Regions from separate parts of the Homo sapiens genome. Here regions 2, 3, 4, 5, 6 and 7 are each reported to be linked to region 1. Evidence: microRNA targets listed by miRTarBase, many of them from high-throughput screens and not tested one by one. Region 1 holds a microRNA gene; each other region holds the end of a gene's coding sequence.

The links. Region 1 holds the annotated microRNA hsa-miR-500b-3p (GCACCCAGGCAAGGAUUCUG, at 2,069-2,088, opposite strand). A microRNA usually pairs through its seed, bases 2 to 8, with sites in the 3' UTR of a target mRNA and lowers its output. Matches are read on the target gene's strand: a 7mer-m8 pairs with bases 2 to 8, a 7mer-A1 pairs with bases 2 to 7 and ends in A, and an 8mer does both.
Region 2: miRTarBase lists C3orf18 as a target of hsa-miR-500b-3p. Seed matches in the 3' UTR shown: 7mer-A1 at 2,653-2,659.
Region 3: miRTarBase lists MEIOC as a target of hsa-miR-500b-3p. The part of its 3' UTR that is shown has no 7-base or 8-base seed match.
Region 4: miRTarBase lists DCAF16 as a target of hsa-miR-500b-3p. Seed matches in the 3' UTR shown: 8mer at 3,351-3,358.
Region 5: miRTarBase lists TMEM74B as a target of hsa-miR-500b-3p. Seed matches in the 3' UTR shown: 7mer-m8 at 3,574-3,580.
Region 6: the mRNA of OPTN is a reported target of hsa-miR-500b-3p. Seed matches in the 3' UTR shown: 8mer at 3,367-3,374.
Region 7: the mRNA of TMEM119 is a reported target of hsa-miR-500b-3p. Seed matches in the 3' UTR shown: 7mer-m8 at 977-983.

The regions. Positions count from the first base shown.
Region 1 is chrX:50,008,743-50,012,809 of GRCh38, reverse strand. MIR500B (microRNA 500b) reads right to left here and starts at 2,138; the gene lies at 2,060-2,138. All of the region lies in intron 3 of CLCN5 (chloride voltage-gated channel 5), which reads right to left. It overlaps MIR362 (microRNA 362), which reads right to left and starts at 3,846; the gene lies at 3,782-3,846. MIR501 (microRNA 501) reads right to left here and starts at 3,088; the gene lies at 3,005-3,088.
Region 2 is chr3:50,555,917-50,559,983 of GRCh38, forward strand. It overlaps C3orf18 (chromosome 3 open reading frame 18), which reads right to left. Exons shown (of 6, transcript NM_016210.5): 6 at 2,109-3,821. The coding sequence ends at 3,741. Among named protein-coding and RNA genes, the nearest start is that of C3orf18, 9.8 kb to the right of the region's middle.
Region 3 is chr17:44,673,950-44,678,016 of GRCh38, reverse strand. MEIOC (meiosis specific with coiled-coil domain) reads right to left here. Exons shown (of 8, transcript NM_001145080.3): 8 at 2,216-4,041. The coding sequence ends at 3,821. CCDC43 (coiled-coil domain containing 43) reads left to right here. Exons shown (of 5, transcript NM_144609.3): 5 at 1-577. Among named protein-coding and RNA genes, the nearest start is that of CCDC43, 14 kb to the left of the region's middle.
Region 4 is chr4:17,799,712-17,803,778 of GRCh38, forward strand. It overlaps DCAF16 (DDB1 and CUL4 associated factor 16), which reads right to left. Exons shown (of 3, transcript NM_017741.4): 3 at 944-4,067. The coding sequence ends at 3,780. Among named protein-coding and RNA genes, the nearest start is that of DCAF16, 9.0 kb to the right of the region's middle.
Region 5 is chr20:1,177,137-1,181,203 of GRCh38, forward strand. It overlaps TMEM74B (transmembrane protein 74B), which reads right to left. Exons shown (of 3, transcript NM_001304748.2): 3 at 3,434-4,067. The coding sequence ends at 3,712. It overlaps LOC124904855 (a long non-coding RNA gene), which reads left to right. Exons shown (of 2, transcript XR_007067486.1): 2 at 1-2,816. Among named protein-coding and RNA genes, the nearest start is that of TMEM74B, 5.8 kb to the right of the region's middle.
Region 6 is chr10:13,136,559-13,140,625 of GRCh38, reverse strand. OPTN (optineurin) reads right to left here. Exons shown (of 15, transcript NM_001008212.2): 15 at 2,318-3,881. The coding sequence ends at 3,760. Among named protein-coding and RNA genes, the nearest start is that of MCM10, 23 kb to the left of the region's middle.
Region 7 is chr12:108,588,131-108,592,197 of GRCh38, reverse strand. TMEM119 (transmembrane protein 119) reads left to right here. Exons shown (of 2, transcript NM_181724.3): 2 at 1-2,347. The coding sequence ends at 666. Among named protein-coding and RNA genes, the nearest start is that of TMEM119, 7.9 kb to the left of the region's middle. RefSeq lists an enhancer at 2,692-3,420.

The DNA.
Region 1 (4,067 bases):
AAGTACAGATTTCCATGGTTTATGGTGTAGTAGGTCAGGGATGAGCCCAAGAATTGGCATTTTGAACAAGCTCCTAGGTGATACAGATGCTGCTGGCCCAGGGACCACACTGAGAACCACTGCTCTATACATAACTTAAAGAAATGAAATAATGGGACATAGAGGGGTGATGCAAAGACTCTACACTTTTAAACATGGATGAGATTCCCTCTCTGAATTTTTGTACAAGGCAATGGACTGGAATAGCATTTGTACCCAACTACGAAGAATGAAAGAGAGGGACAACCTGAATAGAAGGCTCGAGCATCTTCAAATCCATTGTGTTTGTGTGTATGTACAAAAGAAACAGCACTCTCTGGCTCACAGGTGATTTTCCTATGACCATACAAAGGTGAAGTGTCTTTTCTTCATATGCATGTGTGAGATGACTGACAAGTAGGGCCACTTTCCTTCAAGCTCTGGTGGCATAAGCAGCAAGTAGAAAGCCTATTGCCTTGCACACCAGACATGAGTGAGAAGATGCTGCTAATGACACTCATTATCCTATGCACACTGTGGCTGCAGCTCTGTGTAAGGGGAGACACACCTTTTGTAGTTCTCTAGCTGAGCACTGTTGGGGGGTTGGAGAGGGGATGATGGGAAGACTCACTCTCTGCTACATACGTATGCATGAACAATGTGGGCAACGGAAGTTCCTTCTCTTAAACATGCTCACTAGGCATGTGAGTATGAGTTCTGTGTCTTTCTTGACCACCCTGTCTCTCCATGTCTGGTGCATGACAGGAGCGCCACCCCTGCTTGTTAAAGGTGGGAATGAATGAAGGATGGGGATTATAAACAGGTGTTCTTCGCTCTATGCAGAAAAGGCTCAGCCGTGGAATGCTTGCCTGGGTGCACCGCATTGACACAGCACTTGCATCCAGGTACCAGGATTCAAGAGGGGGAACAGGACTGAAGGCCCAAGCAGCCATACAGAGTATGTGTGTGTGCACGTGTGCGTGTGTGCACATGTGCTCACATGGGTTTACAGGGAAGGCTCACCGCATATAGTGTGTTCATCTGTGACTGTACAGAAAAGTAATGAAAGGATCTCTCCTATACAGAGCAGCAAGAAGGAAAGTAGCAGTAAGAAGACTTCCCTCATTTAATCCCCATCTATAAGGGAGTTAAGGAAGCTCACTGGCTTGCACGCTGAGAATGGGAGAGAGGAGAGCACAACAGGCTCCATCTCCTACCCTTTCAGTAGGTGGGGTTCTCTGCATGCAGGGCCATGTCTCTGAGTGTGTCTGGTGTACAAGGATTGGGGACATTTGAGAATTTCACTTGAGCAGAACCTGCACATGCTTGTGCATGCAGACTGGGTAACAAGGAACATATAGATCTACTTCATTCTTTTGAACAGTGGCCTATTCATCCACAACATTTATGTATAGTGTGTTTATGAGTCCCTACCAGAATGTAGGGTAGCAACCTGTCCATTTTGATCCCTGCTATATCCTTGGTGATGAACATAATACCTGCTGTCTAATAGACACTTGAGTATCTGTGGAAGGAAGAGGAGGGAGAGTTGATGTGCAAAAGCTCTGTCCTTTTAAGTGTAGACAAGGCTTCTTCCCTTGGAATTCTTGAAAAGGGACAGTGAGTCAAGGCAGTACTGGCACACAGGCTGAAAGAATGTGAGTGATGCACCAGGTCAGAGGGACCACTCTGTGAGGACATGTCTCTGTGGATGTAACCAAGTCAGGCCCTTTCTCTTGCACACAGCGTATTTATGTGTGATTGTACTGAGGTTTAGTAGATTCTCCAACATGTATCTGTACCCCACCCACCCTGTACCCCACCCACCCTCAGGACATGCAGATATAATGAATGAGAAGGAGTCCATTCTCCTCCCTGAACTGTACACTCCATGAAGGTAGGGAACCAGATATGGCTCATTCTCTTGTGGGCCAACTGCCCAGGACAGCACCTGCAATAGAGTAGGTAGGTACTCAACAAATAGTCATAGAAAGGATGGAAGGAGGAGGTAGAAGTGCTCTGTCCTATGCGAAGATGTCACTCCCCCTTGCAGAATCCTTGCCTGGGTGCACTGCATTCAGAAAGCACTCTCACCCAGGTAGCAAGGATTAGAGAGGGGGAACCAGGACAGGAGATTCCAGTACCTGTACACCTCACATGTGCATCTAACAAGAAGGCTTGCTGTTCTTGCCTAGTGCATTAACCTTGCATTGAACTAAAGTAGAGAGAAGTTGCTTCGACAAGTATCAGGCTGGGTGCAGTGGCTCACACCTATAATCCCAACACTTTGGGAGGCTAAGGCTGGTGGACTGCTTGAGCCTAGGAGTTTGAGACCAGCTTGGGCAACATAGTGAGACCCCATCTCTACAAAAAATAAACACAAATTAGCCAGGCATGGTGGCACAAGCCTGTGGTCCCAGCTATTTGAGAGGCTGAGGTGGGAGGATCGCTTGAGCCCAGGTGGTTGAGGCTGCAGTGAACTGTGATGGTGCCAGTGCACTCCAGCCTGAGCAACAGAGCAATACTCCATCAAAAAAGAAAGAAAAGAAAAGAGAGAAGAAAAGAAAGGAAAGGAAAGGAAGGAAAGAAAGAAAAGAAAGAGAAAGAAAAAGAAAAGAAGGAAGGAAGGAAAGAAGGAAAAAACAAGAAACAAGTATCAATGTGACAGCAGGAATGAGAAGACTCACACTTATGGGTGGGTTAAGGTGGGAAGAGGGTAGATAAGAAGTTCCTATGTGGCCCACTCACCCTCAGTATATGCAGGGGCAATGAGTGGTGACAAAGTCCATTCTCCTCTCAGGCTATAATATCCAGGAAGGCAGGGGCGAAGTCTGCCTTGTTCATTTCTCTGTGTCCAATGCCCATCATGGTGCCCAATACATATTATTTGTGGAAGGAAAGAATGAATGAGGGTCAGAGAGCAGGCAGGCAAGCAGCAAGCAGCTGAGAGGTGACATACAGATCTTCTGTTCTCCACGCAGAGGGGGCTCACCCTCTCAGAATCCTTGCCCGGGTGCATTGCATTCAGAAAGCACTCTCACCCAGGGACAAAGGATTAGAGAGGAAGAGCAGAGCAGAAGACTCAGGCACCTGCACCCTGCATGTATATCTCCATATATATTTGACTTTCATGGTCCCATTCCTGCAAAGTATCTCTGTGTGCATTTGCTAAGACAGATGCCTCTCCTCAGGGATAGCATATGTATTCATCCCCCTGCACAAGGCCACATGGACATGCCCTCTCAGACAAAACCTCAGACTAGAATGAAAGATATGAGTGGCATCTTTTTCAGATCACACTTGAGGGTCTGCAGGTGCTGGATGTATTTGGGGCCTAGCAAGGAGGTTGGGACAAACTGTATGTGGGCACACATGTACATGCACATGTTGGAAGATGGTACAGAAAATTGGGATACTTCATTCTCTTCTGTTTCTCTGGTAAACTATAAGCTCACTGAGAGCAAAGACTGGCTGTGCAAGTCTCATCACCCAATGTGTGTTTCCCCATTACAGTATCTGACACATAGTAAGCTGGGAGTAAACAGAAAGCTCATGCTCTCAAAGAGGTGTAAGCTTGTCCAGGGCAATGATGAAGTTCATTCTCCCACAGGTGCCCTCTACAGAGCCCAGGGACCTTAGCTGTCTTATTTACCGTTGTATCTCCACCACCCAGTGCAGGATCTGGCACCGCATAGCAAACACAAACATGTGAAAGAAGGGGACAGGTTGTTGGTCCTTCTACATGTAGACAAGGCTCAGCCTCTTTGAATCCTTGAATAGGTGTGTTGCACTGAAATAGCACTCACACCTAGGTTCCAAGGATTCAAGAGGGGGAGCAGACAAGAAGGCTCTGACACCTGCCCTTTTTGTGTGTTTGTATGTGTGCATGTGTAGCTATAACCAAGTCTCACTCTCATGTATATACAGTGTCATTTACTAGGGACTTTACAGAAAGGCAGAGAATCTTTTCTCCTGCAGAGTTCCATGTGAGATCAGAGAAGATTCATGCTTTTGTGTATGTTTGTGGGTGACAGTGGTAATGAGAAGTC
Region 2 (4,067 bases), not on the chromosome of region 1:
GGATGTCAAAACAGCATCTCCTAGGGTTCCCCCAGATATCATTGACCATGGCTCTCCACACTGAGGCCTGCTGAGGGGTGCAGCTGGGCAGGATGGGGTGGGGTGTCTGCCCTCAGCCTATAAAATCCCTAGGCACACCCTGCCCCCACCCCACCTTCTTTTTCCTACAGATGTAGATATAGAGATATATAGACCTAAACAATGTGTGTTATGTGTGTACACACACATACACACACATCTTTTTTCCTATTTGATATCTGTCTCCTCCATCTAAAATGGAAATGCAGAGTCTAGGTTGGTTCACCCTCAGGACCGTGGTGCCAGGCTCATGATAGACGCTTAGCAATGTTTCTGGAAGGAATCCACAGCAAGGTCAAGCTGCTCTACTGGAGTTTCTGGGCCCTCCCCCGCAAGAACTTTCCTTTACATTCTGTAGGCGTCCCCAGTGTCTGCCTGGAGCCAGGCAATGGGATTATTTCATTCACTTTGGCTCGAAGGTGACATTTCTCTTTATTAAACAAGAAGATGGCCTCTGAAGGCGCCGAGCCGCATCCACCCAGATACCACCTACCGCAAACTGCCCAGCTTCTGAGCCCAAGCCCTGGTTGCTACTCCCAAGGAAGGGTTTTACTTATGGAAGTGTGTGTGTGTGTGTGTGTGTGTGTGTGTGTGTGTGTGTGTGTGTGTGTGTGTGTGTGTGTGTTGTCGGGCAGGGGGCATTTCTCAAAGGGCTCCATTTAATAGTCAATTCCAGGAGTAGTGAGGCAGGCAGGTGACTCCATCTCATTCCACTGCCTGGCTGAGGGTGGTGACCACACCAGCCTCAAGGCCTCAAGGAGGACACACCAACCAGAACCTTTCACCCCAATATTTATTGACCCCACACTCTGGAAGACCTGGGAACTTGCTGGGAACTTGGTTTTCCTGCAGGACTGGGAATAAGAGCTAGAGGGCAGAAGGTGGGTGGAAGGGGGAGAAGGTGCCTGTGAGGGCACAAGAGGTGTGAACATGTGCCCTGGCACCCACAGAGACAGCTGCCCTGTGCACATCGTCTAGCCAAGCCCACCCCGCAGGAGAGGGGCATGGGGCAGGCAGCAGGAGCGGATGGGCACTGGGGTTCTCCTGGAGCCCCCATCCAGGTCCTGGTCCCTGGGAGCCAGCCTTATTCCACAGGCCCCTTTTCTTCAGGATCCCCCAGACGCTGGATCTTCTGAAGCTCCCACATCCCTGGGCTGAAGGCCCACCCAACAGGGTGGGAGGACACAGCCCACCACCGCCTTTCCTCTCACTCCATGCCCCTCCAGATCCTGCCAATCTGCTGAGGGGAGGAGACCTCTTCCAAAGATCAAGGCCATCACTGACAGGCTGAGCTGTGACCCCAGTGTCGTTGGCTCATGGGCACGTGGCCCTCCCCTCACCTAAGGCCCTGTCCCCCAGCCCCTTCCTCTAGCTCAGCCCTCCATCGTGGAACTGGGGGAGTGGGGGCTCGCCCGCCCCTTATTTCCATGACGCTGGCCTGAAGGCTCAGCTCTCTGGGGAGAGCCTAGATGTCACTTAGAGTCCTGGTTTTGTGGGACTTTCAGGGCTAAAACTGGAATAGTCCTGGGAAAACCAGGATGGCTGGTCACCCTAGTGTCATTCTCCCCCAAACCCTTCTGAACCCTGCGGGTGGATTCCACACAGATGACCCTAATGGCTTCCCACCCCCCACCCTTCCCCTGCACCCCTGTGCTCCAGAAAAAGCCACACTATTTTGCTTCCTTTCATGTTTCAGACCCAGCTCCTTTGGGTCCCGAGGTGCCATACCCCCGTCGGGGCCCTTGGGGCTCAAGCCCCCTTCCTCCTCCGGTCTCACAAGGTCCTGTCCAGTTGACCTTTCCACCCTAGGGGGTGACAGGCCTTGGGACCCCAATCCACAGTTGGGAAATGAAGCCCCAGGGCAACCTCGAAGTCAGGGCCAGAGGCATTTCCTCAGACGGCTCAAGAGAAACCTGGGGTGCCACCTCATAGCTGTGATCCAAGCAACTATCCCCAGGCCCCCCACAGCCCCTCACCCATCCTGCCCCTCCTAGGGTTCCACACCCCAAGCGTCACAGGCTCACACACTCTCCATGTAAACATCTTCATTACATCTTTAATGCTCTCACGTGGAGCTGCTCTGGGTTAAATTACAGCTGTATGCATCCTGAATTCCTGGCAGCCTCCAGTCGACTCAAGTGCTAACGTATTTATAGCATTTAGAGGAGGGAATAAATCCAGAACCTTCCCCATGGGGGCTTCCTAGGCCTTTCCCTCCTGACACATGGCATTTGCCCAGTGGAAGGTCTGCATACACTACCCCTGCATCCCCTCCAGCCAGCAGCGGACAGTGACGGTGGAGAGGCTGGGCACGGGACATGCCTCTGTGCATGCTTGTGTGCATATGTATGCCCAGCGTAAAAAAATGCCCTGCTCTTGTGGTCTGTCTCTGCCCAATGGCTTGCCAGGACCCCTGGTATCAGCCCTGACCCTCCAAGGCTTATGGAGAGGCCAAGTGCAGGGACCCATCTCCCCACTCTCTAAACACTGAACGGCTCTTCCCATAGATGGGATGGAGGTGGGGAATTCAAACATAGACTAAGTTTTTTAGATGTTTTTCTGAAGTGCAATCCCTCACCCACTTTCAGGCAGTCATAACTGCCCCCTCTAGCCTGCAGCCTGTGATTACTGCCCTCAGACCAACAGCCTCTCCCAACCCCAGATCCTCATTAGAGCCCAAGACAGGGAGCCGTTTTCAGAAGCAGGTGAGCCCAGTGAAACAATGCAGTGGAGAGAGGAACCGTGCTGTGCGTGCTTCCCTCTTCCCTGCAGTCCCTGAAGATTGAAGGCAGAGAAGATAGCCTACCCTGATGCTCCACTACATACCATGGGGTAGAGGTCGACTTGGAGGGTGGGGCCAGTGTGGACAATCTCATTCTGCCCGCTGTGCTGGGACAGGCACATGTCTGCCCATGGGCACACTCATGCACATGCATGAGGCCTCTCGGCAGGTCTGGGGGGGCTGCATCCTTCCACTTCCATTCCCCTACTTCCTTCCCCCTCAGCTCCCATCCTAGCTTGGCCCCAGTAACATCTGGTTGCCAAGGATGGGTGGCTGGGAGACCTCCTGGACCCTCCGTAGTATGGATGGACCCTGGGTGTGAATTGCCCTTCTCCTGGCATCCTTGCATACTGGACAGTTTCAGCTCCATCTCTGGGCTTCTCAGGGCCCATAACAGATGCTGCCCTACCCTGTCCCTATAACTTGGGTGGTTTCCTCTCCCCACCCCAGAGGAGGCTCCAGATTCCAAAAAACAGGTCTCTCCCTAACAGAGGGAAACCTCCCCTTTCCTCCCCCAATCCCTCCCACTCCGTATCTCCCTCATTTCCTCCACATTAGCGGGGCAGACCCTGATGTGAGGGATCTGGACAGGGGATGAGGAAGCCAGCAGAGGCTCTTGACCTTCTCAGCATGAGGGATGCCCTCTGTGCCAGGGCCCTCAGGTCAGGAGAAGTCAGTGGTCAGAAGTCCAGCCTGGCTAGGGCCCTCTCTTAGAGTCTAAAGTCAGCAGGTGGGTCTGGAGAACAGCTAGGACCTGGCTCAGCCCTCTTGTGTCTTGGCAGGGAAGATCTTCAGAGTAGGTCTTGACAATCAGGGAGTGGGGAGCTCTGTAGGCACCGTGATGGGTCTCTATCAGAAGTCCAGGCTTGTCCCAGGCCACTCACGCATGGATGGCATTGGCCACATCGGTAAACACCAGCCGGCTGGGTCTCTGCAGTGGGCCCTGGGAGGGCAGAGTAGTCTGCAGGAAGACAGGCAGGGGCATCAGAGACCATGGGCAAGGCCATGCACTCACTGGCCTGGTCACCTCCACCCTCACTTCCTGGTGCCTGCTTATGCTTGGCACTAGCAATGGCTTCTGCCTGGAATGCCCTCCCTGCAAGCTCAGCCTACAAATATGACTTGGCTCAGATGACTCCTCCCCAGCTTGCCCTGTCACCTTGGAGGCACTTACTGTGTTGATTTAATTATGCATGCACTGCCTTTT
Region 3 (4,067 bases), not on the chromosome of region 1:
TATTTAAGAGTGTACATAGTAGGTGCTCAACAAATTTATTGAATGAATGAGTGAATGGAAAAACTGGGAGAGTCAAAAGTGAGCAGAAGCTCTCCATTTCTACTTCTGTCACAAACCACATTAAATTGTAAATAAGGCCCTTCTCCACTTGACTTCAGGCAGCAGATTGTCTAGAAGCCTAAGGACAGCAATTTCTCTGACAAGACAAAGTAGATATTTTATACCAGGGGTTGGCAAACTACTGCCCACGGGCCGAATTTGGCCCAGTCTGTTTTTGTATGGTGCAAACTAAAAATGATTTTTACATTTTTAAAGAGTTATAAAAGAAAAAAATATGTGGTCTGTGAAATCTAAAATATTTACTACCTGGCCTGTTGGAGGAAAGGTTTGCCAATCTCTGTTTTATACCATTAACTATGAGATTAACAAAAACTTTTACCTTTGTGCAGAAGGTTAAAAAAAAAAAAACATGGTTAAGGAAAAGGAGACATGTTACCTCTTCATACACTCCTATAACTGTGGCATTGCAAAAAATAAAAATAACCACCTTTAAAAAAATAAATCTTATTTAAATTGCTGTCTTCTGACTTATTTTGATTGCTTCTACGTACCCATGGAAATGAAATATGTGTGAGTAGTTACTTAGGAATGTGTTGATTTTTATTTTATGCTTTGTTTTGATTAGCCCTATAACTTATATTCCACTAGTGGAAGCTCTTCCTGGAATCCATAAATCCTCTTTCTCAATTTTCCTTTTTGTGAAGTAGGAATTAGATCAGAAAGATTAGCATGTTTTTTGGAACATCAGGAAATTGGCTTAGAGGTCCTTACTATTACAGTCTTAGTCCTTTATGTGGTGGTAGCGATAGGGTATGATAGAGCCTATTTTAATTTAGTAATCCTTATTTTGGGATTTTGGGTTGTTCTCACCTTGATTTTTGTCACTGAAGGAGTCAGGTTATATCCACGGTCCCCTGAAGGGTACTTGTTTCAATTTGTTAGTAGTCAGTTCTTTCTTCTGGGACTCTGCTATGTATGTCACAGTTAAGTATACTCTCAAACTAATGCTTAAACAGAAAATAGAGGATCAGCTCATTAGGCTTTGAGTTTAGTTATCCACTTGACTCAGGTGCTAATAAATCCTTTACGTCTAAAATGTTCAGTATTGCAAAGGGCATATTTTTTTTGTTTGTTTTTTGAAACGGATCACTCTGTCACCCAGGCTGGAGTGCAGTGGCGCCATGTTGGCTCACTGCAACCTCCACCTTGCGGGTTCAAGTGATTCTCCTGCCTCCCCCTCCCAAGTAGCTGAGACTACAGGCGAGTGCCACCACACCCAGCTAATTTTTTGTATTTTTAGTAGAGATGGGGTTTCACCGTGTTAGCCAGGATGGTCTCGATCTCCTGACCTCGTGATCCACCCGCCTCAGCCTCCCAAAGTGCTGGGATTACAGGCGTGATCCACCGGCACCCAGCTGCAAAGGGCAAATTTTAAACAACCATATCTTCTATGGTAAGATTGAGTTTTAGGCCAGATTTTGGATTTCAGTCATAAATTCTCAACCCTCTAAAACTTTATAGTAGCAGATTATTCAAGTGAGAAGGACACTGATAACAACTCAAGGTAATTTTGCTTTTTCCATTAAAAAGAATGAGTACACCAAGTTCTTTCAGATTAGAAATGGCGGGAGCATCAGTTTTATCAGTTTCACTGCAAATTTTGTAAAAGTTTTATAATGTTTTCATAGGTTGTAATTCAGAAGTACAATGTTTTATAGGTTGTAATTCAGAAATACAAGTACATAAGAACCATCTGTTAGAGGATATGCCACTGAAAGGGACAACCGACTAATTTAAAAATTATCTATTGGGTGATATGATTAACAATATTTCAAAGAATTTTTTTAAGTGTTTGGTTCTTATTAACGGACTGGTATTTCATTTCTGACCAGTATCATGTAAAAGCTTCCCTAAAATTTTTATTCTGGTTTACACGGATTAGCATAAAGATAGAGCAAAAATTTCATCTTTGAAGGAGATCTGGTTAGATCCATGGATATCTGAATGGCATTGATTTATAAACCAACATTATTACTTGTGCGTTAATAATGAAATCTAAAACTTAGTATAAGTTCTTAAATGAAATTCATTTGACTTTCTGATATGAGTGACTCTTAAGGTTAGAAACATATGAATTTAGAAAAATGAAACCAAATGTTTTCAACAAAGTAATTTATTTTTTTCCTGAGACTAAATTCAGTACAGTATTTGTTTTTATAACATCCAACATGTCTTATGTTAAACTTAACCACTTTCTATGCAGTGACTGTGGTGAGATGATCTATTTTATTTGACTACCCTCAATGTAATTCATTTGGGTAGTTCTAAGGCATATCAGTGATCAAAATGTTTCTCCCTACAGTTACTCTTGCATTCTCAATCAGTTTCTTCTGCACATCATCTAAAGAAAATTTATGTGGTATGATTACACTCTTTTTTTTTTTAATACCAGAATTTCTAAAACTAAGAAAAACACTAACATTTAAAACATCAGTGTTTCTAGTCAAGGATATTTCAATTAAATTTCATCAGTACATTATAGTTTAACTCATGCTAGAAATGTTAAAACCCAAGATCTTCTGAGTCACATAATACCAACATTTCATATTAACGAATAAATTACTCAAGTTCTATACAAAGATACTAAGTGATGAGAAACAGAAAAAGTTAAGCTTTCAATAGTTTTAAAAAAATACAGAAGCAAACTAATGAACACAACTACGCAAAATATAGGCTAACCAATTGCAAGCTAAACTAGTTAGAGATTAACCTTTAAAAAATACATTTTAGAACTTAGAAGCAAACTAATGAACACAACTACACAAAATATACACTAACCAATTGCAAGCTAAACTAGTTAGAGATTAACCTTTAAAAAAATACATTTTAGAACTTCGTGACACCCTCATAAAAGGCAGCAAACTAAGGGTATTAAAACAGTAGTCATTATTTCAGTTACTGTGCATCAAGTCTAAAAGATCCAGATAAAGGGAATGTTTTGTGATTCAATTTAAATAACTTTAAAATTGGAAACATTTAACAATTGATAATATAATTAAAATTTAAAGAATATACACAAATGATCTGAATAGGTTTTATATTCAGTAACTTGCATGGTTTTTACACTGACACTTTTATCATTAATTTAGGAGAATCAGATGCATTTCCCTCCATATACCTAGGCATTAAGATTCCAAATTTATAAATATGGTAGTATAGTATTTTAAATATTAAGTTTGTACATGAATATTGGGTTTATCCGTATTTTCCTTTGTTTCCCAGGTATTATCCAGTTTTGTAAGGAAAACACTTTGATATCACAATCAAAACTTGTCTTGGTTACTAGGCTGTAGCCGTAATTGGGTTACAGTCACTTAGATTCATTATTTGGAATTATACTTAACTAAGACAAACCTAAATGAAATTTATCTCCTAGAAGAATTTCACATTTGCATTTACCTGCATGGCAGAATGAGTTTAAGCACATTTTAGCTGTTAGGAAATATTTAATTTACTTAAACTTGTTATCTGACTACTCAGAACTCTGAGTAGTCAACTGTACCTTTGCGTTTACTTAAAACTATATCGGATTCACTTCAAATAGAAGATTTTTAAATAGAAGTTAGACTTCATTAAGGTACTGGTATTAACTTTAAATCTGAAAGAAAACATACTGAAAGTTTGACAAGTTCATTAAAACATTTTTAGCATGTCTTGGTATATTTATCAGCTTTTTATTCTTCTTTCTGCTGGCATTTCCTTAATGTTTGTTTGTTTCACCTCTCTGGTTCATTGGATTGCTACTATTTATGCTTTCATGGACTTTATCTTCACAGTTTACTGTATCTTGTAAAGGCTTTACCACATCAGCTGTACTGGCTGTTTTTGGCAAGGTCATCTGCAGTGCACACCACAGGGCAGTGCGTGTTTTCCGAGTAGCCACACACATCTCTTTAATTGCAGAAGCAAGGGCAAAAACATCTGTAAAATAAACATTCAGGGTCATT
Region 4 (4,067 bases), not on the chromosome of region 1:
AGGGCTTCTATCCCCTAGAGGGGACCTATCATATGCCCTCCTGCCATGCATGTATGGATTTTTTTCTTTTCTTAGGAAGCAGATGGGATTAAAAGACGTGATTATGGTCTTTGAGGCTCAAGGTATCTGGACTGTTTTAATAAAAATGTTGCCTATGGCTGGGCACGGTGGCTCATGCCTGTAATCCCAGCACTTTGGGAGGCTGAGGTGGGTGGATCACCTGAAGTCAGGAGTTAGAGACCAGCCTGACCAATTGAGAAACCCCATCTCTACTAAAAATACAAAATTAGCTGGGCGTGGTGGCACATGCCTGTAATTCCAGCTACTCGGGAGGCTGAGGCAGAATTGCTTGAACCCGGGAGGTGGAGGTTGCAGTGAGCCGAGATTGCGCCATTGCACTCCAGCCTGGGCAACAAGAGCGAAACTCCATCTCAAAAAAAAAAAAAAAAAAAAAGTTGCCTATCTGCACTGAGAAAGTAAAAGACAGTTAATGTCCACTGGTTTAGAAATAGTTTCCTTACTCCTTTGATAAATATTTCTATAAATAGAGGATAAAATAATCTTTTTATCTTAATTATGGTGACTGCATTTAACAGAAGCCAACATAGGGAGTGCAAAGGTAGTAAATTCATTCCCAAACCCAGTGTTTATGCCACACAAAAAGTTAACTTAAGGCTTATTTAGGTACCTGTTATTTTGTGCAACCTGGAATTACTTAAAATACATAAACAAATAAGCTCACTTTGAATCTTGACTGAATATCAGACATTTTCTTCTTCAAGTGTGTTTCTTCTCTAGAGACGCCAAGTCATCTCCTGTCAGACATACTATATAGATTCAGGTACTGTATCTATTAACTCTATTCAGTACTTAGTGAATGTAGAATATGCCTTAAGCAAAGTAGGATCTATTTCATTTGTTGAGGACAAATGACCATACTCTGTTCAGCATGTACAAAGCTATTGGTTTATTCAGCTGCCAAGCTGGGGAAAGGCTTCCTTTCGAAGTGAATAGCAAAAATGCATTCATGAGCAAGGCACTTTTATACACACACAGAGAGAAAAAGGAACGTATTATGAACACATGAACATAAACATATTTTAATATTCAGACCTCTTCCCTACCTCCTCCCACCTCCACTTAAACAAACAAACAAAAAAAAAGGAAACAGTTTCCTGTAACATTTTAGAAACCAGTTTCACAGAATACCTACATAGGAACAATTTCTGATACATTCAGTTACACTAACAATATGATATGGTTTCAGGTCAATAATTTCCACTAACAAATACTTTTATTCTACAATTCCCTCTTTTTTCCTTTAGACAAGACAACTAAGGCTCAGCAGAAATATTCACTAGGTTATAAGCATTCTTCTCTCTTCTTAAAGTTGCTATATATTTACACAATTTGTGATTCCTAACCTTTTTTTTTTTTGAGACGGTGTCTCACTGTTGCCCAGGCTGGAGTGCAGTGGCGCGATCTCAGCTCATTGCAACCTCCACCTCCCAGGTTCAAGCAATTCTCCTGTCTTAGCCTCCCAAGTAGCTGCGATTACAGGCACATGCCACCACGCCCGGCTAATTTTTATATTTTTAGTAGAGATGGGCTTTCACCATGTTGGCCAGGCTGGTCACGAACTCCTGATCTCAAGTGATCCACCTGCCCTCAGCCTCCCAAACTGTTGGGATTACAGGCATGAGCCACCATGCCTGGCCTGCTTCAATTTTTTGATGCCACTTTGTAAACGGCACTTAATTATGGAAAATAGGAAAAAGCAAAACTAAAATAAGGAAGAGGATATATATATAACTTTTCACAATCTCTTTTCTGATTCCCTTTAGATGCCCAGTCAACCAGGACCACACACAGATTTCATTTTATTTGTAGAGTATATGAAAAGATTTAATAGTCTCATGCATTTTATTTTACGTATACTGATTTCTACGTTTTGACTGACTATTTAAATAAACAAAACAAGACTCATTTACAAGGGCATATACTCTTCCTTGTTTGGCCAGAAGAAAATCTATAGCTAAATCTACTTAGAAAAACAATGCTGCTAAAACTCTTAACTTCAGATTGTATTAGGCTGAGATTTTCTAATAACAAGGTTCTTTAAAATTAGAAGGGTTCAATCCCAGCACTTTGGGAGGCCGAGGCAGGTGGATCACGAGGTCAGGAGATCAAGACCATCCTGGCTAACACGGTGAAACCCTGTCTCTACTAAAAATACAAAAAAATAGCCAGGAGTGGTGGTGGACGCCTGTAGTCCCAGCTATTCGGGAGGCAGGGCAGGAGAATGGCACGAACCCGGGAGGCAGAGCTTGCAGTGAGCTGAGATCATGCCACTACACTCCAGCCTGGGCGACAGAGCAAGACTCCGTCTCAAAAAAAAAAAAAAAAAAAAAATTAGAAGGGTTCCTGAAAAGTTTGCAATGGATGTGGAAAGTACTTGAGCTTTTACTCCAGGAAATGCTATACAGATTAAAATTTTAATCCATTAGCAGTTAATGCTGAAAGCAGAAATGCTCTCTTAATCATTTTTCCATTCATCTTTTGAAATGTTATTTACTCTTGACAAAAGTCTGAGTACCAAGATTCAGGAAACACATTCCCTACAGAACAGGTGTTTGTTTAATCCCAAGGGATGATCTTATAGGCTGATTTAGTCAGAGACAGCCTGGTGGGAGACTCCGATATAGAACGTTCATGCTGTAATTTTAAGTACCATAATAAGTTTGTAGTAGTATAGGCTAGGCTTAAAACTGCACTCCTCCTGCCTCCCCGCCCCCTTCCAAAAAAAAGAAAAAGTGAAAGGAACTCTAAAGAGTGTCATATGCAGGCACATCTATATAAAAGCTGGGAAAGAAATTCATATCCCTGCCATTTTCCTTTGTGTAGTTACCCAGTTTAATTCAACTACCTCAAAAAAAAAAAAAAAGAAAAAATAAAAGGAACCCTAAAGAGTGTCATATGTAGGCACATCTATATAAAAGCTGGGAAAGAAATTCATAGCCCTGCCATTTTCCTTTGTGTAGTTACTCAATTTAATTCAACTACTTCCACAGAAATGTATGTTAGAGAAGAGTATGCTCAGAAAGGTATTATTGTGGGTAGCTAACTTCTTGCTTTCAACAATGGCTGTTCTAAAGTCTGGATAACAAAAGGGGTGGTGGTCTACTTTTCTTCATTAATAATCAGGTATCTCATTAAAGCCATTCAGAAAGGCAGAGTAAATTGGGGTGGGGAGGGTGAGAAGTGAGTGTGAAGAATATTCAACTATCTTTTGTAATATGGTCCCCTTAACTAATTCTCCTTTTTTTTTTTTGAGACTGAGTCTCGCTCTGTCACCCAGGCTGGAGTACAGTGGCATAATCTCAACTCACCGCAACCTCCGTCTCCTGGGTTCAAGTGATTCTCCTGTTTCAGCCTCCCGAGTAGCAGGGATTACAGGCGTGCACTGCTGCGCCCGGCTAATTTTTTTATTTTTAGTAGAGACAGGGTTTCACTGTGTTGGCAAGGCTGGTCTCAAACTTCTGACTTCAGCAGATCCACCCGCCTCAGCCTCCCAAAGTGCTGGGATTACAGGTGTGAGCCACCATGCCTGACCTTGATATTATCATTTTATCCACAGGGTTTGTCAAAGGGTATCCTCATTGGCTTGCCAGGGCATAAGAGAGTTTGACTGAGAAGGCATTAGTGGGCTGTGTAATGACTAACTTTGTACCACTTTCTCAATTAGCAACATCAGAGATATCAGAGCAAATGGTAGATCTTTACAGTGATGCAGTTAGGAGTTTGTTAACTGCCTTTTGGAAGTCAGTGTAAGAATAAGTAGTGTTGATGGGTTCAGTACGAGTTGTTTCCTTAACTGTTTTAGTCAGCCAGCCACAGCAACACCCAGAAACACATGAATTAGGGATCTGTTTTAGGTATTCAGGTATGGGAGTGGCTCTACTCAATGTTCGGCTTAGCTGTTTGGTGGCAAATTGCAGTGCTCCATTTAGAGTGGCATGATCTCTAGAGAGCCGGCTGGGACTTGTAAGAGGCTTTTGAAAAGGTGG
Region 5 (4,067 bases), not on the chromosome of region 1:
CTTTTGTTACATTTATTCATCCATTCATTCAACAGTGAGCACCTACTATGTGCCAAACATGTTTCTAACACTGGGAGTACAGCAAGAACCAGTTAGACCAAAATTCCGGCTTTCATGGAGCTTGCAGTCCAGCAGGAGAGGTCGTGGGTGGGAAAGACAAGTACAAGGCTCAGCCTGCTGGGTCATGATTAGTGATCAGAGAAAAATAAGGCAGCGAAGGACAAAAGGGAATGAGGTGGGGTGGGGTACAAATTTAAATATGGTGTTCAGCAAAGGCTTCACTGAGGAGAAGATATTTGAATAAAGCCCCTAAGGAGGTGAGGGAGTGGGCCTTGCAGATACTGAGGGGAAGTACCTTCCAGGCAGAAGAAGCAGCACGTCTGAAGTCCCTTGGATGTGAGCGTGCCCAGTAAGGTTGAGGAATGGTCAAGAGGCACGTGTGGCTGGGGTGAGTGAGCAAGGGGTAAGGGGTGAGAGATGAGGTCAGAGAAGCACAGGGTCCCAATTGCTTAGTGCCTTGTAGGCCACTGTGAGGGATGAACCCTGGTTTGGGGGTACCTGAAGCTTATGCAGTCCAGTGGGGCATCCTCAAGATAGATAAACCAATTCAGGGCCTTGGAAGGGGCTTGTGCTAGTGAGAGGCCCGGACACTTAAGCTTTGCCAGTCTTGCTATAAATCTGCCACTGGTTGTGGTGAGAATTTTGGCTTTTGCCTGGAGAGGGAGCCATAGGAGAGTTTTGAGCAGAGGAGTGGCCTGACCTGACCAGCCTCTGGCCTTCCTCTGGCTGCTGAGTGGAGCATGAACCTGGTGATGGGGCGGGGAGGAGGGGAGGAGAAGGGGGTAAGAGAGAAAGCCAGAACACCAGTGAGCAACCCTGGACTGGCGGTGACAGCCGAGGGTGGACAGCAATCAGATTCTGAAAGTGGAGCTGACAAGATGCGCTGATCTGGAATGTGAGGTGTGATAGAAGAAAGGCAGAAGGGTTGACCACAGCGTTTGAGGCCTAATCCAGCTATCCCCAGTTGAGGTGGGGAAGGAGAGCATCATCATCCCTGGACCTCATACTATGCAGTTCTCCATTTTATCTGTAATCTGCACCACCACCCTGAGGCAGAGCTTTCATTAATCCCACTTCACAGATAGAGAAATCCCGACTCAGAGAGGTGGAGTAACTTGCCCAAGGTCACACAGCCAGTAAGTGGCAGAGCCTGGATTCCAACTTTAGTCTTACCAACTCCAAAATCGGTATCTGTTCTGATGCACCAGGAAAAGCAAGGTTTGGGGCCCTAGGAGCAGGTTAGGTGGGAGAGGCAGTTCCTGGAGGAGAGGCACATTCCAGTAACCACAGAGGCCCCTGGAATGCCTGCAAAGAAAGTTCTCAGCATCCTACTCCGTGTTCCTAATCACCTCCTCCTTAAACCTGTTTCTGATCCATCAGCTGGCAGATCTCAGCTGTAATCATGGGGAAATGCTTTTGTCATCTCTTAAGTTTTCTTAATTCACTGACAAGGTAATAACGCCTCAGTCCATTATACACATTTTCTAAAGGACTTTCAACATTAGAATGCAAAGCAGGCTTCTCTGGCTTAGAAAAACCTGAGACTCCTGGGATTTAATCATCAAACAGATTTAGCCCCTAAATCTGTTTGATGATTAACATCAAACATTTCGTAAGAAAAAAACAAATGGTAGTGCGGCCAGCATGTCCAGGCCACCCAAATATGCCCAATTTCTCCCCTAAATAAACTCATTGCATTTAAACTGATATGAACTGATGGTCCCAGATGCATTCACTCAACAGGTTTAGTATCCAAATGAGTCTGCCACCATCACAGTAATCCATATGACTTGGTTGATATTTTTTTAATTATCATTATGGATTGAAAAGCCTTAGCCCATGATTTGGGATGTCCAATCCTATGTAGTTTACTTAGAACAGCTCATGCCACGTTCTGTGGCTGTGCCTACTTGGAGCCTGGGAGAAAGCGACACAACAGTGGAAGCCTAGGACTTGTGAATCTTTTACCATCTTGGAGCTTTGCTCTTTCCACACCATACCCCTTCAATACCACAACAAAAACCTGGGAAGCCAAGCTAAACAACCCTTGTCCTTTCCAGTCTTCCTCTAGCTCTCTGCTCTTGGTAAAACCTACCAGTAGGAGCAGATATTTGATCTGTCATAGAAGCTGTGATATTACACTCCCCAGATGTTTAACTCACTGGACTGAAGGCTCAAGTTACAGCTAATCAGGGCCTCTCTACACTACAGACCCCATGCCCCCCCACCCTCCCACCCCCAAGGAACAGGATCCTCGGCCCATGTGGCCAACTGAGATGGAGTAAGTAGGACCTACATTGGGCAGGGGATTCACTAAAATGGCTCCTGTAGGGTCTCTACACCAGTGGCTTAGAAGGCATGTGCTCTCAAAGCCCTCTGGGTCCATTCAGACTGAAGGATGCCTCCCCACAGTCCTCAAACACCTGTATCTCCTTGCCCCAGGGCCTACTTCCTTTCCTTACCAAGAGTTTAAAGAAAGTCTGCAGGAACCTAGAAACATTTCATAAGAAAAACACAAATGGCAATGTGGCCAGCGTGTCCAGGCCACCCAAATGTGCCTGATTTCTCCCCCAAATAAACTGTGGCTTCACTTTACTACTATATGAGGGAGACTAAGGTTACAAATTCAGCATAAATTTTTTTTTTTCCTGTTATCCAAATAAGGTCAGGAGCAAGAGACATACTATGGAGGAGAAGGTGATCAAGGCCTGCATCATGCCCACAGAAATACAATAAAGCCCTCACCCTTTCCTGTGTAAAAGATCCTTCTTGCCCAGAGAACTGGGTAATATTGTGCACTTGGCTTTGTAAAAATGTGTCACTGCAGGAAATTAGACCCCAAGACCAAAACCAGGCTGTAGCAAACTTTGAACTGAACCCAACCCCACCAGGGAGCTCTTCCCTGAGACCATGAGAGCTGCTGGCTGTGGTGGTCCCTGAGGTCAGGCCAGAAAATGGCAGGGAGAATGGTTAGTGCCTGGTGGATGCCTTCCTGCCCTGGAGGGGTGACTGGAGATAGAGACTGGGTTCCCATTCCCAGGGAAGAACTAGAGGGACCTGAGGGGTCATCCAGTCCAACCCCCTCACTTGAAGGCAGGGCAACTGAGGCCTGGTGAGGGTAGGATCACAGTTTAGTCAGTGGGGGTACTGGGGGTCACTCTGGTGCTGACTTCTCCCCTCATCATGAAGCCACCTCCCCCACCTTAGATGATCAGGGCTGAAAGGGACCCCTCCACGGCCAATCAACACCCTCACTCAGCCAATAAGGACAGCAGAGGTCCCTCACTCCCCAAGGCATGAGGGAAGAGGATGGGCAACCTTTCAAACAGCTCCCAATCTTGAGAAATGCCAAGAAACCTCATCCTCCAAGAGCAGCGGTTTCCAAACTTTTGTATTTTTAGCAGCAGAAGCCATCCTCCAAACAAAACCGTATGCAAAACCTCAGCTACAAAACAGATCAGTGGGCTGCTTGCCCGTGTGGGGCATGGGCTGGGCCCCGAGCTCTCCCTCCAGCACCCAGTACTTCTTCCACAAGGCCCTATGTGAGCTCAGTTTAAAACCCCAGGGCCTTGGCAGGGGTCAGGTGGGCGGGAGCAGGGGGTGGACCTTGTAGCACTGGAGCTAAAGCAGCCAGATAAGGTGGGCTAGTTCTTAAGACCTCTGGAGGGTGTGGCTAGTCTCTGAGACCTGGACAACTTCATTCTCCACCAGGGCCTGGCCCCCATCCCCATTGAGCTGTCTCATGCGCAGGTTAATGGAGCCGTAGGTCTTCCTGGAGCCCTTGCCGGGGACGAAGGTCCTCCGGCGGTACAGCTCGCCCTTGCACAGGGAGACCATGAGCAGCACCGACAAGAGCATGCCGCCCACCGTGAGCAGCCCGAGGCCTGCGATGATGCACCTGTCCAGGTGGGAGCCTAGGCGGGCGTAGTACATCTCCAGTCGTTCCATCTCCCGCGCTGTCACTGTGTCCGGATTGACTCGAGCCTCACGGGGGATGGCGTATGCTG
Region 6 (4,067 bases), not on the chromosome of region 1:
GAATCTCTAGCCAAGATGATTGGAAAAGATCTTTCCCTGTATGAAGCCAGTCCTTAAAGACTGGAAGACAGAGTTGTTTTTCAAATACATGGATCCCGACACAAAATCACAAGACACATGAAGAAACATATGAAAATATGGCCCAAAGAGGCAAATGAAATCTCTAGAGACTGACCCCAAGAACTAGAGGTATATGACTTACCTGAAAAAAAATTCAAAAGATGTTCAGTGAGCTCAGGAAAACGATGTATGAACAAAATGAGAATATCAACAGAGAGAGTATAAAAAAGAACCAAACAGAAATGTTGGCAGTGAAGAATAAAATAAATTGAAAAATTTATTAGAGGGGTTCAACAGCAGATTTGATAAAGCAGAAGAAAGAATGAACTCAGAGGTTATTTGAAATTATCCAGTCAGTGGATCAAAAAGGGAAAATAATTTTAAAATGATGAAAGTCTAAGGAACTTCTGGGACACCATTAAGTGGACCAATATAAACACTATGGGAATTTAAGAAGAAATACAAAAAGGGACAGAAAGCTTCTTTAAAAAAAATAATGGCTCAAAATTTCCCAAATCTGGGGTAGAAAATAGACATCCAGATTCGAGAATTCCAAAGGACTCCAACTAGAATGAACCCAAAGACATCCACATTGAGTCATTTTAAAATCAAAAAGCAACTTGTCATGAACAAGAGATCCTTCATAAAACAGTGGATTTCATAGCAGAAACCTTGCCAGATGGCCAGAAGGGACTGACATAATATATTCACAGTGCAGAAGGGGACAAACTGCCAAATAAGACATACTATGTCCAGCCAAACTGTCCTTCAAAAATGAAAGAGAAATAAAGACCTTCCTAGGCAAATATAAGCTCAGGGAGTTCATCACCGCTTGATTTATTTTCAAGGGTTGAAAGGGATTCCTCTCACACCAATAATCCTAGCACTTTGGGAGGCTGAGGCGGGAGGACTGCTTGAGCCTAGAAATTTGAGACTAGCCTGAGAAACACAGTGAGAATCCATTTCTACATAAATTTTTTTAAAAAATAGCCTGTGGTGTCCCTGTGGTGCCAGCTACTCAGGAGGCTGACGGTTTATAAGAAACCTATTATTGCAGTAGCAAATAGCCCGGCCATTGGGCTAGGGGCACCCATGCTGCCTCTCTGTGATATGGATTGGGTTAATGAAGAGGCTTAGTTTCAAATGCCTTATACCACCCTCGAGCAGAGTCCCCATGGCTCTTCTACCTTATGTCTCCCAGGGTAACATGAGAGCATCGGCAAATGGAACGGTGCTCAGCAGGTGGAGGCACGGGACTGGGGCGGGGGGTGGGGTGGGGAATGGGGGGTAAATGAGTAGCAAAGGCCTGGTTTCCCAGGTGCTTTTGCCTGAAACCTTCATCCAGGAAGTTATGGTTTGAATGAGGGAGGTATGTTAAATGAAATAAGCCAGTTACAGAAGGAAAAATACTATGTAATCCCACTTATAGGAGGTATGTGAAACTCAGAAGCAGAAAGGAGAGTGGTGGTTGCCGGGGACTGGGGAGGGGAGAATGGGGGCTGCAGTTGAATGGGTGTAGAGTTTCATTCACGCAGGATGAAAAAGTTCTAGAGATCTGCTCTACAACAATGTGCACACAGTTAACAATACTATCCAGGATAGTCGTAAACCTGTTAAGAGTGCAATCTTCAACTATGTATTTTTACAGACACAAAATTCCTAGGAGGTATAGTTAACTGGTCACATGGAACAGAGCCTTTGAAGGGATATTAGAATAAATAAATGAGGTAAGATGTGCACAGAGTTTATAAGCTATTTACCAAGCTGGAAACAACAGCCTTAATTTAAACTGACTACGTGAAATGGCCTTCATTTGTAATTCTTCCAACTATTAAACAAACGATTTGGTCACAAGCTTAATAAGCCCATTCATGTTATTATTTCAGTCTGGCTTTGCTGAATATTTTTACTTGAACAAAGTAAAAGGATTATGTCCAATAACTTTAAATGTGAAACCATTTGGTTTCCTTCTCTGTTTAGGAGACTATAGAAATATATTTCCTCCAGTATAAGATGATAAGGGAAAAAATTTACATTAGAAACCATAACAAAGAAAAGTAAAAATGTCAGAGTTACTTTAGAAATGTCTTTAACAAATATTCTCCCTGAGGTGTGGTAGGGGACTCGTTTAATTGAAATTACTGTTGAATTTGTATCATGTGTTCTCTTGGCATGAAGATATAATGAACTATTTTGATTCTTATTGAAGTGTGTGTGTGTATAGTCAAGTTTGTCTAGGAGAGATTCTTAAGACAAATTTAAACAAAAGAGATCTTTTAATTTTTTCTTAAATGCTTTAGTATCTCAATGCATAAACACACTGTTTACTTTTACAGCTGGTCCAGTGTTATTTACTCTTGGCAAATTGTAGACTTACAAAACAAGGCAAATCCCTACCTATTCACCTTCTCAGCAAGAATGACTTCTAACTCACACAGCACATACTGGGCTCCAGTAAAGGGATCTGCTCATATCCATAGAACTAATGAAAGATATATGACTAAGTATACAGCTTAAATGAAGCCAAATGAGCTTAATACAGAAAATATATATGATGATATTAATCATATATAAACAATGTAAAAGATTCATAAGCAAAATTTTATTTTGCCATCACTAATTCTTGTGATTATGAAGATATAACCTAACCTAGGAAGAAAATAGGCAGCTGTTCTTTTTAGAAATTAATTATCTACTGTACAAGCCCACAGGCCTGCAGGTACAATGAAAGCATGAAGGTAACTTCTTTACACTGTGAATGGGTAAAGAAATCCAATGAGGCCAATGTTATCGGTTTCATCGATGCCAATATTTTTTCACTTGTCTTGATATTAAGTAAAGGCTAACTGCCTATGTGAAAACTTTGGTAAAATTATTGTGGCTGCAATAAAACTACAACATACACACATAACCTCCAACAGATCCATTTTAAATGAAGAAAAACAACTACAATTCGTTTTTAAAAATGCTTCAAAAACAGCACATACTGTGGCCACTTCATTGTTCCTGCATCCCTAAAAGGTTCTTAAAATTAATCAGTGAGGTTTCTTCCATCTAATTACATGAACTTTGTCACATGATGTCACATGCTAGCTAACTGCATGAGCAGTGCAGCTGCTCGCATCAACCAAACATAAAAAATATTAAAATTATTATCAGAAGAGTAGTAGGTAAGGATTCTACTTTGCGAGTTGATGGAACTCCACCAAAGGTGTTCTACGTAGAACAGGTACCTTTTCTTCTCCTTCCTTCCTTCTCCTTCCTTCCTTTTTTTCTTTCTTTCTTTCGAGACAGAGTCTCCCTCTGTCACCCAGGCTGGAGTGCAGTGGTGTCGTCTCGGCTCACTGCAACTGCCACTTCCTGGGTTCAAGCAATTCTCCTGCCTCAACCTCGCGAGTAGCTGCGACTACAGGCATGCGCCACCATGCTCGGCTAATTTTTGTAATTTTGGTAGAGACAGGGTTCCGCCATGTTGGCCAGGCTGGTCTCAAACCCTGACCCCAAGTGATCCACCCACCTCGACCTCCCAAAGTGCTGGGATTACAGGCATGAGCCACTGTGCCCGGCCTGTTTTCTTTCTTTTAAAACAAGAATAATGAGGCAAAATATTTGAGTGAAAACAAATAACACAAAAGCACAACTCTTGGAGGAAAAAATCTGACATTTACCAACAGTTTTGGGGAGGTGATACATCAACACTTAAATGATGCAATCCATCACGTGAATCTGTAACGTGTCTATGTCAGGCAGAACCTCTCCACACTTGGGGCAGGAATGAATCGGAATATTCCGCTGTTGCCGCCAGTCCCTGTCCTCAGCTCCTGGGAATAAGTATGATAATTCCATTAGTTCCATTTTGCAGGCAGTTGTGTTTGTTTCACTTGAAGAACAGATGGCGAGTTTTAACATCAGTTCAACTTCGTATTCAACACGTAGTGGGACATGAGCACAGGTGTTTGGTCTTTAACTGAAGTCATCACGATGCACATAGAGAAAAATCTCTCCAA
Region 7 (4,067 bases), not on the chromosome of region 1:
AGCCCCACATCGATGGGGCCCCAGCCCATAACCCTGGGGGGCCCATCACCCCCCACCAACTTCCTGGATGGGATAGTGGACTTCTTCCGCCAGTACGTGATGCTGATTGCTGTGGTGGGCTCCCTGGCCTTTCTGCTGATGTTCATCGTCTGTGCCGCGGTCATCACCCGGCAGAAGCAGAAGGCCTCGGCCTATTACCCATCGTCCTTCCCCAAGAAGAAGTACGTGGACCAGAGTGACCGGGCCGGGGGCCCCCGGGCCTTCAGTGAGGTCCCCGACAGAGCCCCCGACAGCAGGCCCGAGGAAGCCCTGGATTCCTCCCGGCAGCTCCAGGCCGACATCTTGGCCGCCACCCAGAACCTCAAGTCCCCCACCAGGGCTGCACTGGGCGGTGGGGACGGAGCCAGGATGGTGGAGGGCAGGGGCGCAGAGGAAGAGGAGAAGGGCAGCCAGGAGGGGGACCAGGAAGTCCAGGGACATGGGGTCCCAGTGGAGACACCAGAGGCGCAGGAGGAGCCGTGCTCAGGGGTCCTTGAGGGGGCTGTGGTGGCCGGTGAGGGCCAAGGGGAGCTGGAAGGGTCTCTCTTGTTAGCCCAGGAAGCCCAGGGACCAGTGGGTCCCCCCGAAAGCCCCTGTGCTTGCAGCAGTGTCCACCCCAGTGTCTAACAGTCCTCCCGGGCTGCCAGCCCTGACTGTCGGGCCCCCAAGTGGTCACCTCCCCGTGTATGAAAAGGCCTTCAGCCCTGACTGCTTCCTGACACTCCCTCCTTGGCCTCCCTGTGGTGCCAATCCCAGCATGTGCTGATTCTACAGCAGGCAGAAATGCTGGTCCCCGGTGCCCCGGAGGAATCTTACCAAGTGCCATCATCCTTCACCTCAGCAGCCCCAAAGGGCTACATCCTACAGCACAGCTCCCCTGACAAAGTGAGGGAGGGCACGTGTCCCTGTGACAGCCAGGATAAAACATCCCTCAAGGCTGGGTGTGGAGGCTCACACCTGTAATCTCAGCATTTTGGGAGGCCAAGTGCGGACATCACTTGAGACCAGGAGTTCCAAACCAGCCCTGGCAACATTGTGAGACCCATCTCTATAAAAACAAAAAACAGTCCACTAAATCAGCCACATTAATTGGGAATCATATGTCACAGGTCATTTGTGGGGCAAACATCACTGCTTTTCCATCAAGGGAGCAAAGAATAAGTGGGAGTTTTGGAAGAGTTTGGATGAGAGACGCCAAGGTGCCCAGCGTTCGTAAGGCAACATGCAGCCTGGCGTGAAGCAGTATTTTGAAACTGCAAATGGTTCCCTTCTTGTGTCCTTTCAATGCTGAATATTTTAGTGTCATTCTGCCTGTGCTCAGAGCTCCAGCAGCAGAAGTGTGTGTGGTTAATTAGGACACTTCTGTGAGAGGACCCCTGCACACATTACGACAGGTCCCTAAATGAGCATTTCCCAAACTAGGTTCCCCGAGGCACTCTACGGAAACAAGATTTTTTTTTTTGAGACGGAGTCTCGGTCTGTCACCCAGGCTGGAGTGCAGTGGTGCAATCTTGGTGCAATCTTGGCTCAGTGCAATCCGCCTCCCAGGTTCAAGCGATTCTCCCGCCTCAGTAGCTGGGATTACAGGTGCCCACCACTGCGCCCAGCTAAATTTTGTATTTTTAGTAGAGATGGGGCTTCACCATGTTGGCCAGGCTGGTCTGGAACTCCTGACCTTCAGGTGATCCACCTGCCTCTGCCTCCCAAAGTGCTGGGATTACAGGCGTGAGCCACCGTGCCCGGCCCAAACTACTTTTTAAAACAGCTACAGGGTAAAATCCTGCAGCACCCACTCTGGAAAATACTGCTCTTAATTTTCCTGAAGGTGGCCCCCTGTTTCTAGTTGGTCCAGGATTAGGGATGTGGGGTATAGGGCATTTAAATCCTCTCAAGCGCTCTCCAAGCACCCCCGGCCTGGGGGTGAGTTTCTCATCCCGCTACTGCTGCTGGGATCAGGTTGAATGAATGGAACTCTTCCTGTCTGGCCTCCAAAGCAGCCTAGAAGCTGAGGGGCTGTGTTTGAGGGGACCTCCACCCTGGGGAAGTCCGAGGGGCTGGGGAAGGGTTTCTGACGCCCAGCCTGGAGCAGGGGGGCCCTGGCCACCCCCTGTTGCTCACACATTGTCTGGCAGCCTGTGTCCACAATATTCGTCAGTCCTCGACAGGGAGCCTGGGCTCCGTCCTGCTTTAGGGAGGCTCTGGCAGGAGGTCCTCTCCCCCATCCCTCCATCTGGGGCTCCCCCAACCTCTGCACAGCTCTCCAGGTGCTGAGATATAATGCACCAGCACAATAAACCTTTATTCCGGCCTGAAGTCTCACCAGTTTTCTGGGGGGTGGGGGAAATGAGCCTGCTGGGGAGGGGCTCTTGCATGGGGATGGGGACAACTTTCTGGGGAGACACATCAGCCCAGTCCTGGAGGGTGAAGGGACAGATTGATGTGGGAAACAAAGGAAAGACCGGTGCTCCCGAGGAATGGGCTGGAACTCATGTCCCCAGGGGTGGAGCACCAGCTCTGGACTTGTGGCCACGCAGACCCAGGTTCCATGCCCAGCTCTGCCACTGTGGCCATGGGAGAGTCACTCACCTCTCTGTTTCCCCTGCAGGTGGTTGAGGACTGGGACGGGTCTCATGGACAATGCCCCCCTCACTGCACCCTTGGCCGGGATCGGGAGTAGGAGGCAGCCCTGGCCCTGCAGTCGGCCTCTGCCTTCTGTCTCCCCACCCACAAAACTCCTCTTGGTCTTTGATGGCAAGTTCCTGCAGCGACTTCTCCCCCGCACCCTGGGCCTCAGGAGCTGCCAGCTGGAATCCAGATGTGGCTGGGGCTGGGAGCATGTGCTGGGTCCCTGGGGCTGGGGGGCAGTGGGCCATCCCCTGCAGCCCCTCCCCTCCACCGACCCCACCTCCAGCCGGAGGGGGCCCCAGAGTTTTGGGTTTCATAACACACAATAGCCTCTGTCTCACTCAGTGGGGAAGGGCCCTCCCTTTCTCAGCCCAGCCAGGCCTGCCAAGAACAGCAGGAGGGTGGAAGAGTAATACCTGTGTGTGCTGCGTGGCTCTGACCAAATCGACCAAATCATTCAACTTCGCTGGGTGTCACGGGCTGTGCTTTCTTCTTGTTCCCAAGCTCCTGCGGGGTGTTAGTTGTTGTGACGTGACTGGGAAGTGCATGAAGCTTCCCTTGAATACATAAAAATCTAGTAAAACAGAAGCAATCATTAGAGACCCTGGGGGTGCAGACGGGGGTGAGCTCCCTGATCAGCGGCTCCAGTCTGCAGTCTTCCACTAATGCTCAGCGGGACCCTCCAGAGGACATGGAGTCCATGACCTCAGCCATAGCCTGTGACCCCCAAGACTGGTGGGGGATGAATGAAGGAGGTGTTCCGAGCAACAGAGCAGTTCACCTCTTCCTCACCTCTGAGCTTTTACAGCTGCTGTTCCTTCTGCCTATGACACCTTTCCACCCCTCCCAACCCCCTGCTGCCTTGCTAACTTTCCCCTTATCCTTTAGCTTCTGGCCTAGATGTCCCTTCCTCCTGGGAGCCTTCCCTGATAGCTTCCACCCCACCCCCCTTCCACAGTCCCTTGGCTCAATGATAATAATGGCTTCCAATTAATGAGCCCCTGTTATGTGCCAGGCCCTGCTCTCAGTACTTGGCATCATTAACTCATTGAGACTTGCAGCCCTCTGAGGTGGGCACTGTTATTATTCTCATGTCACAGATGTGGAAACTGAGGCCCAGAGAGGTGATGATGTCGGCTGCCCAGGTCCCAGAGCCAGGATTCCAGCCCAGCAATTTGATTCCAGCGTCTGAATTCTCCACTGGGCTCTAATGCTTCTTTGAAGAATGAATGAATGAATCCCTTGGGAAGGGGGCAGCAGGGCTCCTCTCCTGCTTAAAGCCACTCCAATCTGCTCTTACATCTGAGATGGGGTTACCTAGAAGGGGCATTTTATGGGCACACATCTGGCTGGGCACCAGTGAACACTGAGCCATAGAGGGAGACGGTGGTTGCTGGGGGGTA